Linked DNA regions of Homo sapiens: region 1 is linked to region 2. The links come from fine-mapping of genetic effects on gene expression. A gene starts in region 2. The other region holds a variant in brackets. All regions are shown on one strand. Distances are from middle to middle. Region 1 overlaps PIGK (phosphatidylinositol glycan anchor biosynthesis class K). Region 2 holds the start of PIGK (phosphatidylinositol glycan anchor biosynthesis class K).

Region 1 (5,507 bases), 130 kb before region 2:
AGTGTGTAGCAGCAACTCAATATCCCTTTGATAATTGAGATCAATCACTCCAACCAGTGAAGCAACTCCCTATTTTTGGCCTGTTGGTTTAGTGACATAAACAGCCTCAAATGACCAGGTGGCAATGTTCTCTTCAAATTCAGTGAAATTGTTGTATCTCATGATGAAAGCATTCTCCCTCTTGGGGGCAAAGACCTCCAAATTAGCAAAGTTCAAAGTTTCCATTGGATTTGGCAGTTCCATCACTGATAGCAGTAAAGGAAATCATTTCAGGGGAGTAGTGGGAACAAAAGCCAGATTACAAGGGGGTTTACAATGAAGAGAAGGCAAGGCAGGGAAGCCAGTAAGTGAATGCAGCCCACTCTTTCGAAAGAAAAGCTATGAAATTAAGTAGAGGAGAGCTCTGTAAAGCACTCAGAAGAGGACACAGGATTTTGAGAGGAATTTTTAAAATGAGGAAAACTTACACATCTTATAAAATTCAAGGGGAAGCTCTTCTATGTAAAAAGAAATTGAAGGAAGACATGAGTAAACAAGCTCCCAAATGGGATGGGATCAATAACTCAAAGCAGAGGCATCTCTGCCTCAGTATCTGAGCCCAAAGAAGTGGGGTAGGGGTGTGATGGGAGAAAATAAAGGCAAATTTGTAGAAGGTGGAGCAGGAAGTTGAGCTGGTTACCTTCTCCCAGTTTAATTTTCAGATTACAAAGCAAAGCCTTTTGATGAAAGAACTAAGTTGGTAGAGCAGGAAGACTGAAGAAAATGCACAATTTTGAAAAGAACAATAGTGGAAAATAGAGAGGGGCAAGAGATAGAGAAATCTAATCTGGTTGTCTATAAATCATGACTCAAATTTTACTTCCTCCTTGATGTATGCTCTGCCTCTTCAACTGATAGTAAATAAAAGATTAATAATATATCTATATAGCAATTAAAAACAGAAGTTTCTCTTTAAGTGCCTGTCCTATAGCTCTTACATAGCACTCGTCATTTTCTGCTATGTAGTTTTTTTCCTTTCTATAATCCACTGGTAACTCTTTAATTAATTAGATTTTTGTATCCCTCATAAGCATCTACTAGAGTGTGTAACTCATTAACACAGTGTTTCAATAACTAATTGTTGTACAACAAACCACTCTATACTAATGGAGTAAAATAACAATCTTTTGTAATTATTCTCTCTCATGGTTCTGGGGATAACTAAGTGGTTCTCACTTGGGGGTCTCTCCTGTGGTTGCAGTCAGGGAACATCTGGAGGCTCCTTCCTGCACATCTCTGGAGTGTGATGTTGGCTCCTGGCTGGGACCTCAGCCGGGAGGCTGCCCTCCACAATACACATATGTGACTTCTCCATGCGGCTTGGGCTTCCTCAGGGGATGGTGGCTGGGTTCCGAGAGCAAGTGTCCTAGAAAAGAGCTGGGCAGGTGTTATAATCCTTTTTATGATCTCTGAAGTCATGCAGTAGTATTCGGTAACACTCTATTTATTAGAATTAAGTCACTAAGGCCAGCCCATATTCAAGGGGCAGGGAGTTTAGACTCCATGTCTTGATGAGAGGAGTGTCAAGGGATTTGAAGATACTACACATATAAATGCTAATTAGCTGCTTGTTTTAAGCATTTAGTGTATTTTGAAAAAGCCTCAGAAAGAAAGAGAATGAGAGTGGTACACAGTCTTACAAGGTCTGAATAGAAGTCAGGAATAATGCTAAAGAGTCAATTAACCATAAAAGATGCTACCCATGGCTGCTTATTTCGCAAGTGTTTGTGATCTTCTTTTACAATCTCTTTTTAGGAGATAAAATTGAGCTATTTTGTCTAGAAAGGTGTAGTAGGTCAGTGCTTCTCCTACTTTATGGGCACACAAACTCCTCGGGATATTGTTAAAATGCAGATTCTGATTCAGTAGGTCTGAGGTGGGCATCACATTCTGCATTTCTAGGAAGCTACAGGGGGGATACTGCAGCTCCATGAGCCACCCATTGAACAGCAAGTTAGCAGAAAGTAATAAGGGTAACTGCCTGGCTCCTGTGATCCCATCCTTCTCTGGGAGGAGTGCTAATGGGGTATGCCACCAGAGGTCCTTATGGGCTTACAAGACCTTAGCCCTCTGGCCTGTGAACCTGTGATGCCAATAAGGTTAATCTATTCTTCCATAAGACTTGTAGAACTGGAATTAAAGGAAGACAGTAATTTACCTCTCTCTTGTGGTAGAAGCATGGGATATGAGGTTCTATCCATCATGTGAGAAAGTCAGTTTCCAGGAGGAATAAAGGGAACACAGAGAGAGAGA[G/A]TGAGTCCAGGTGATACTCCAGTGCCTGATGAGGCTCAGACCTGACCCCACTTCTGAAAGATTATACAAAATATCCTAATATTCTTCTGGCAAATTCCCCTCTTGGCCTACATTTGTTCTACTTTGGTTGTTATCATTTGAAACTAAAAAAGCTCTAACAAAGGGTAGGGAAAGTAGGGGATATGTTCTCTTGGAAATGTAATGCTCACTGTTTTGCAGTACTAGATTATTATCCAGACATCTGCAACCTGAGGGTGAGGAAAGACTGTCCCTTAAATCATGTTAAAGGTATGTTCCCAACAGAGTGGACTGAATATGAAAAAAGAAGACAGTGGAACACTAAGGCTGAGGGAAGATGAGAAAAGCCTCAATCTACCTAAAATAGGAGAAAAATCTAGAAAAGGGAGGCAAGAGAGTCTATGGATTAAAATCGTTGGATAGTATCGAAAGAAACTGTTACCCAAAATTTATGCCTGCTGAAAACAGATGGGAAAAGGACAGTCTAGGAATAGCAAAGCTAATGTTCTCTAAAGAGTGACAAGACCCTGGGCCTGAGTGGAAGTTAAAAGCAAGATAGTCCTGCCCAGCAAAGAACAAAACATTGACTTTTCCTATATGTCAGACATTGTGTGATTTGCTTTACATTTTTTTTTTTTTTTTTTTTTTGAGACGGAGTCTCGCTCTGTCGCCCAGGCTGGAGTGCAGTGGCGCAATCTCGGCTCACTGCAGGCTCCGCCCCCCGGAGGTTCACGCCATTCTCCTGCCTCAGCCTCCCGAGTAGCTGGGACTACAGGCACCCGCCACCTCGCCCGGCTAATTTTTTGTATTTTCAGTAGAGATGGGGTTTCACCGTGTTAGCCAGGATGGTCTCAATCTCCTGAACTCATGATCCACCCGCCTCTGCCTCCCAAAGTGCTGGGATTACAGGTATGAGCCACCATGCCCAGCCAATTTGCTTTACATTTATGACCTTATTAAATGACCCCCCCTAAGAAAGTTTCGCTCATGTCCGTCCCTGAAACTCTAGCACAGTCAAAGCTGGCACTACCATAGTCAAAAGAGAGAAAACTGAACGTGGGTCGTATCATGTGATTCCCACCTGGCAGACCCTATGACTGGGTATACCTCAGCAGGCAAATCTCAGAGTCCTCTGAAGTCTCTGAGACTGCAAACTGTGCAGGTGACACAAGAATGACACTGCCACCTTTCCATGTTTGGAGTAAATAAATTTTTAATAACCAGTTTCTTGGTTACAACTTCATCTATATAAATCCCCTTATTCTAGGATCTACACAGTTAAACCTAATATTTCACAGCACATTTCCAAAACAGTACAGTTTTTACACTAAGAAAAAAAAATAAAAATAAAAGCCTGGTTACCACCAAGGTGTATTGTCCATGAATTGAAAGGCTTTCCTATTTAAGTAGCAGGTACATGTGTAAATAGGGCAGGCAGCAACAGAACAGCAATATTGGAGAACTCTTTCTTTGTAGTAAATGCCCTTGAGTATGAGATGTGACACTGAAGCAATAAGGCCAATTCTTTAAAGCAAAAATGGATACTGATCTCATTGTTTTATAGCCATATCTTGTGGTATGTTTATAACGTATTTCTTTCACATGTTAAAACAGTATCTACTAAAGATGGGCTTAATTTTGGTAAAGTCAACTGAAAAAAGTTATATGTTAATGCAACATTTGTTGTAAAGATTCCAGAAACACAGGAGTCAAAATTTCAAATTATGATTCCCACAGTAACTGTAACTCTGGTATACAACATACATAATGGAAGAAATGTTATCAATATATACCATAGTAGAAAATACTCAGTAAGCAGAAACAAGCTGAGTTATGCTTCTTGTGGGAATCATCATTTTCAACTAGCTGGGAATATATAAAAATCAAAACCATAAATGCATGGATTATTTTTTGCATTTAATTCTAATATTTCTTGATCCAATTTAATCAGCTTTGTATCCAAACTACATTTTCCTTTCATAAACTGCAAATGAATGTCTTTCGTAATTTTAAAATCCACATTATTTGATTTCTTTTTCTCACACAGGCTGCCTTTGCAGGATGGCATCATTATACCCTGTCCCTCCCTGAAATGTCAGGACACATCTGCAGGGATTCATTTATCTACATTCCTTTTCTCTCTGAAGGACACCATGGGGGAGGAGAAAAAGAACAGCAAAGAGAACAAGAATCACATTGAGTAGCTTAGAAAGCTACATAAGTGCACTGTGACCATTAACTTCCCCTTTGGTATCCTCCTAAGCCGACATAAGAACAATAATGCCACCATATATTTACAATTTCAGAAGTGTTTAGTCAAAATACTATCTCATCTGATTCTCACCACAACACTGTGAGAAAGGCAAAAACAAAACACCTTTCTGTTGTTCAGCTTTTGTGACTCAAGTAGAATATATTTAAGGATTTGTTTTTATGATACTGTTTAAAGTGTAGGCCATTTAATTGCACTGACAATATTTCCTAAACGTACTCATCTACCACATGCAGAGGATTTAGTTATTATGAAGGCAGAGTATGCTCTATGTAAAAAGATTATGGTTATAAGTGAAACATTTAACATATTTTAAGCTTTTGGCTTTAACTATATTCTGAAGATTCAATAATGAAACAGAGGAACAACTGCCCTTTGAAATTCTGCTGAGGCAAAATTTATCCTGAATATTTTATCCAGTATTACTTTTCCCAGTTTGGTTTTAACTAAGAAGGGCACCTTCTACAACCTCTGAAGACGAATCCTTTTACTTTCTAGCAGTCTTTACAGGGTATGTTTCATTATATTCAAACTAAATTACTTTGGCTCAAGAACAATCATAATTCCTTTACCACCCTAAATAGCTCCGCCTCACCGTGGTGTCCACGACCTTGTATGAGTGTCTGGAGGGCAACATGGTCAATCTTTTTGTGTCTCAGTGCTACTATAATCAGTCTATTCAATTGCAAGTTTATTTTCCCTTCTTTTCATGTACAGAAAGATCCTTCACATAATCAGACAAAATTTTTCTTCCTCATTTATATAACACATCAATAAAAAGATCAATTAAAATAAAGATTCAGAGCTGGCAAAAAGCCTCAATATCATTTGTTCTAACTAGGGAGATAACACAGTCAATCCTTTGCCTTTTGAAAAGTATGACAATCTTGCATGCAATTAAAAGGTAATATTATAAGTGCAAAAG
Region 2 (5,000 bases):
ATTTGTGAAATATCATTAACAGATTTTAGAGTGTACATGTAACCCTCAAGAATATCAATTTTCATTAGAATATCATTTGCTGTAGTAATACAAGTTAATTCTTACGTTAACTACCAATAGAGATGGAAAAAACTGATCTCTGAAATTACTATGGCTAGGATAAAATACCCTTAATTTAGCAAGGCAATAACATAGTATTTCACATTAAATGAAACTATAATGGGTTGTCTATTGTTAAGCATTGTTTCTGATAAATTGACATGATAAATATAGAATAATAACCTGAACAAAAAGTGTGTGTGTGGCATGTGTGTGTGGGGGGGTGTGTGTGTGTGTATTTTTCCCCCTCCAAACTCAACAGCTGCCTGGATGTTAAAGAAAGCAATGTGCTACAGTGGTTAAGCATTGATTTGGGAATTCAAAGACCTAAGCTAAAATTTAGGTCCTATCTCGCAACTGGCTGTGAAATTGCGGTAAGTCATTTAGCTCTTTAGACTTGACTATCCTCATGTCTCTAATGTGCCTTCCACCTCCAAAGTTCTTACTTCTTTCAGACCTTAGTGAAAAAATTTAGATGGCAAAACTTTTTTGTGGTTGTCTAGACAATACAGTCATTATAAAGTTATTCATTCTACATACAGTAAATGCAGCACCTATTATGTGCCAGATACCATTAATATATAGTGATACAAAAATCACTAAAAAGCATGCTGCTTTCTCTCAAGAATCCAGAGTTCAATAAAGAGGAGCATGCAAACACATTACACTATAATTATTACATTCATTAATTCATCACACTCATTGGGCAACATGCCAGTCACTGCCCTGAGTGCTCCAAATACAATGCTGGGCAAAAATAGCCATAGTACTGCCTTCAAATAGGTTACTATCTAATTGGATAGATATACATTTAACAGATAAGGAAAGACACACAATATAATAAGAGTACAACAGAGGGACCTGACCTGGTCAGGAAAGTTTTCCTAAAGAAGTGACTGTTGGGTTAAAATCCAAAAGATGAAGAAAAGAGGAAATACAATTCCAGACAGAGGGGAGACAGCTCTAATGTGAGAAAAAGCTTAAAGGTTTTGAGAAACTGAAAGAAAGTTAGCCTAACTAGAAGTTTGAAAGAGAAAGAAAAAATTTGAAGTGTAGTCAGGGCCCAAAAAATATGCAGGGTTTTTGTTTGTGGGTCATGGTGGAGAGTTTAGAGCAACATTAAGGTGATCTTTTGAGCAACATCAAGGTCCCTGGGTGACATGATTGGAACTGCATTTTTAAAAGTTACTCTGGCTTCAATTTGGAGAACAGATTGAAAGGAAAAAACAACGACTCAAGGCAAAACATTTAGGAAACTGTTGCTCCTATCTCTAAGTGAGATATGATGGAATAACAGTACAAACCATACACGGGTTATAGTAAATGAGTGCTGTATCAAGTGTACAAATTACAAGAGTAAAGGCAAAGGTAAGAGATAGGGAAACGTTCTACAGAGGTTATGCCTTTACTGTATCTTAGCACATGAACAGAGGAAACACAATGTATAAAATATTGTAATGTGAAAAAGCACAGCAATTATGTAACTACAAAAAACAGTAATAGTATCCAAGATGAAGCAGTCAAAGTTAGAATAAAGGAGGGAAACAGAACTTCTATTTACTCATATTTATGTTCTCTAAAAATTATGCTATATAAACATCAAATATATAAATTAACAGTAATTCATAAATATATATGAAGTTCATGCTCAATATCTTTTTTTAACTGATAGGGTGTGTATTCAAAAAGTTTGGAGTCCACTGGTCTAAGCTCAAGGTGCCCAGGTGGTGGGGAGAAGAGGTTCCAATATGGAACACTGGAAAAGTAGGCAAGCACCAGGTCATAACGTTTAGACTTTATTCTGTATGCAATTAATAAATATTTAAAAGATTTCATCAGAAGAATAACCTGATCAGGCTTACATTTCGTGTAGACGAATCTAGCACCAAACTCAGGGAGTATGGAGGCCTATGGAAAACAAGATAAAGTAATCGCAAGAGTCTAGACAAGAAGTGATCACAGCCTGAATTAAGTCAGTGGAACTGGAGAGGTGAGGGCAATTTTAAGAACTCAGATCACAAAATTTAGTGATAATTAGAATATGGGATAAAGAGATTAAGACTCTCAGGTTTCTAGCTTAGGAGCAGCACATCTGGTTGAGAAATGGAGGAGAAAAGGGGTGCTTAGTTTTTCAGTGTCTTTTTAAGAGGAGGTAGGATAAGCAGAAGATAAAACTTTGCACACGGATTTTCAAATGTCTCCTGACTATCCCGGATTCTTAGTCAGCTGGATATGCAGGCCTGAAAAAGATACCAGACATCTAGATTGTAGACCGGGACTGAGGAATCATCAGAGTATGGTGAATAGTAAAAGCATTATAGAGCACCAGAACATCCTGTGTCCACGTTTAAAAATGGGAAGCTGGAGGAGCCCAGGATAAAACTAAGCACCCCTTTTCTCTTCCATTTCTTAACCCAGACGTGTTGCCCCTAAGCCAGAAACTTGAGAGTTTTAATAAACACTTATATTTATCCCATGTTCTAATTATCACTAAATTCTATTATCTGGATTCTTAAAATTGCCCTCATCTCTCCAGTTCCGTCTGACTCCTATCAAAACAGAGGGCTGCAGTTGAGTAGTAGGAAAGCAGTTGCTGCACACTGACATTTCACGAGCCTCTTGCTCGTATTTCACCTAAGAACTGCACACATGTAGGAGCAAAGGATCAGGTCCTCCTCTGTCTCCGAGGGTTTGATTATTTCAATTCATCGTTTTAAAACGCTGAAACAGACCAACAGTGTCCTAACCCGTGCCCAGTGATACCCTCCTCAAACCCAGCCTGGGTCAGGGGCTGATTGACTCCAGGAGGCGTCCCTCAGCTACTGTGTATCGGACATCTGCTGGAGGGCTCACAGCCGGCCTCCCGGCTGTGGTCAAATGAGCCTGACTCCTACCTCGATATGACTAGCGGCCACGCTGCCGAAGGACAAGAGCAACACAGTTGCCAAGACAGTCGCAGCCCGGCTGAGGCTGTCGGTGACGGCCATGTTTACCGGCTTCAGACTTCCCGCACCTGAAGGGGCGGAGGCAGTGCCGTAAAGTAGCGCTGCGGGTTTTTGCGACACCATCCGCGCCTCTTCGAGGTGGCCCTCTGGTCCGGCTTTAGAACTCTGCGGTTTTGTGGAGCTCGAGAGTCCGGGACAAGGTAGACGCAGGATATTGACCTTTTTATTTTTAACTGCATTTTCAGTTTGGAGGTTGTAAAATAGGTATAACATTTAAGAAAAAAAATTGAAAGGTGAGTGGAGGGAAAACCCGTAACTCCTTAAACTTTAAAAACTTATTTCTCTGTTCCCTTATTTATTTTATTTATTTATTTATTTATTTATTTATTTATTTTGCCGAGTGCTGCCAATTCTTTGAAAATATGAAGCTGGATGTGGTGGGAAGAACAAGCGTTTTGGCACAAAAAGATGATTAATTGGATAAACTATAAATGGAAAATGTGGGTGGGCGCTGCAATTTAGAGGCTTGGGGTCTACTACCTGGTGAAAGGATTAACATGGGAAGCTAGTTACGTTTTTGTTTCTTGAGTATCTTCTGTAATTATGGAACTAAAGCCTATCTGGAAGAGACACAGCTGGTGTATATGTATGGTCCACCATTCTCTTTATTATGTGAGTTCAGTTTTAATTTATGCATTTCATCTAGTATGACATAAACGTTTCCACGCTGCTTCCTCACAATTTTAACATTTAATGGTGAGATAAAATTCCATCCATTATTGATGCCTCAGCCAAAGTAATTGTCCCTCTGCTGCACAATGCAAAGTTTTTAAGTTTTACTATGAAAATAATATTGTAAAGAGTATCTTTTGTGTGTTTGGCTTTTTAAATCTGTTGAATTATTTTGTTTGTATAATTTTCCTGAACTAGGAATTTGGGGTCAAAATATTCCAAAACATTTTAATAACTATAAATGATGTTGCTTTCCAAAATGAACAAGCTTACAGCACTATCAGAATACACAACACCAAACCATACCATTTTTTTTCCTTTAAATTCTTTGGTATGAAATGTTACCCCTAGGTAACTATACTTATAATTCTTTGGTTACTATCAAGATCTGATGTCTTTCTTGTGTTTCTAAACTATCTCTGTGTCCTCTGATGTAAATTCTTTGTTTATATATTTATGTTTTGCATATGAATTTGAATAATATATTTATAAATAAGTAACATTAGCCTTTGCCATATTTTATGCTATTGCTTTTCCCATTCTCTTGTCTCTCTTTTCCTTTTATTTGTTTCTTTTGCTATTGCACTTTGTGAGAGGTTTCATGCTATTTAGTCAAATTTAGGTTTTCCGTTACGTGAATCCTAGAAAGTAAATACACTGCCAGAATATCTTCCATGTATTCATTAATTCAACAGATATCTATTGGATGCTGATGATTATGAAACAAAGTAGCAAAGATAAGAAGCCATTTGCTCATTCTGCTCCTTTGCCAGCAATATTTCACAAAGCCCCTGACTCATTGACTGTGAGCAGCCTTGTGGAAGAATGCCTTGAAGACCATAAGCAGGATAGGGAATAGGTTTGCACATCTCTTGCCTGAATCACTGAATTTTTACAAAAGGTAAGTTTGGTGATCCTAGCCCTTGCCTCTTCCTGTACATAAGATAATGTCTGACAAGATTAATGATTATGCCTCAAATTCATGACCAGATGTAACTTCATACCCACACTTTGATGAGACTTTACTTGTATTAACCCATTTTCATACTGCTATGAAGAAATACCCAAGACTGCATAATTTCTAAAGAAAAAGGCTTAGTGGACTCACAGTTCCACATGGCTGGGGAAGCCTCACAATCATGGTAGAAGATGAAGAAGGAGCAAAGGCACATCTTACATGGCAGCAGGTGAGAGAGCATGTGCAGAGGAACTACCCTTTATAAA

Evidence for each region. PIP is the estimated chance that this variant, and not a neighbour inherited with it, causes the effect.
Region 1: its variant is the best candidate, but not a certain one, in a credible set for the expression of PIGK in whole blood (TOPMed, PIP 0.57).

Annotation. Positions count from the first base shown.
Region 1 is chr1:77,085,484-77,090,990 of GRCh38, forward strand. PIGK (phosphatidylinositol glycan anchor biosynthesis class K) reads right to left here. Exons shown (of 11, transcript NM_005482.3): 11 at 3,506-5,507. Among named protein-coding and RNA genes, the nearest start is that of MIR7156, 28 kb to the left of the region's middle. The variant G/A (reference allele first, on the strand shown) is at 2,293.
Region 2 is chr1:77,216,317-77,221,316 of GRCh38, forward strand. PIGK (phosphatidylinositol glycan anchor biosynthesis class K) reads right to left here and starts at 3,114. Exons shown (of 11, transcript NM_005482.3): 1 at 2,994-3,114. The coding sequence starts at 3,086. It overlaps LOC105378808 (a long non-coding RNA gene), which reads left to right and starts at 3,204. Exons shown (of 3, transcript XR_001738109.2): 1 at 3,204-3,337; 2 at 4,472-4,677. RefSeq lists an enhancer at 2,798-2,907.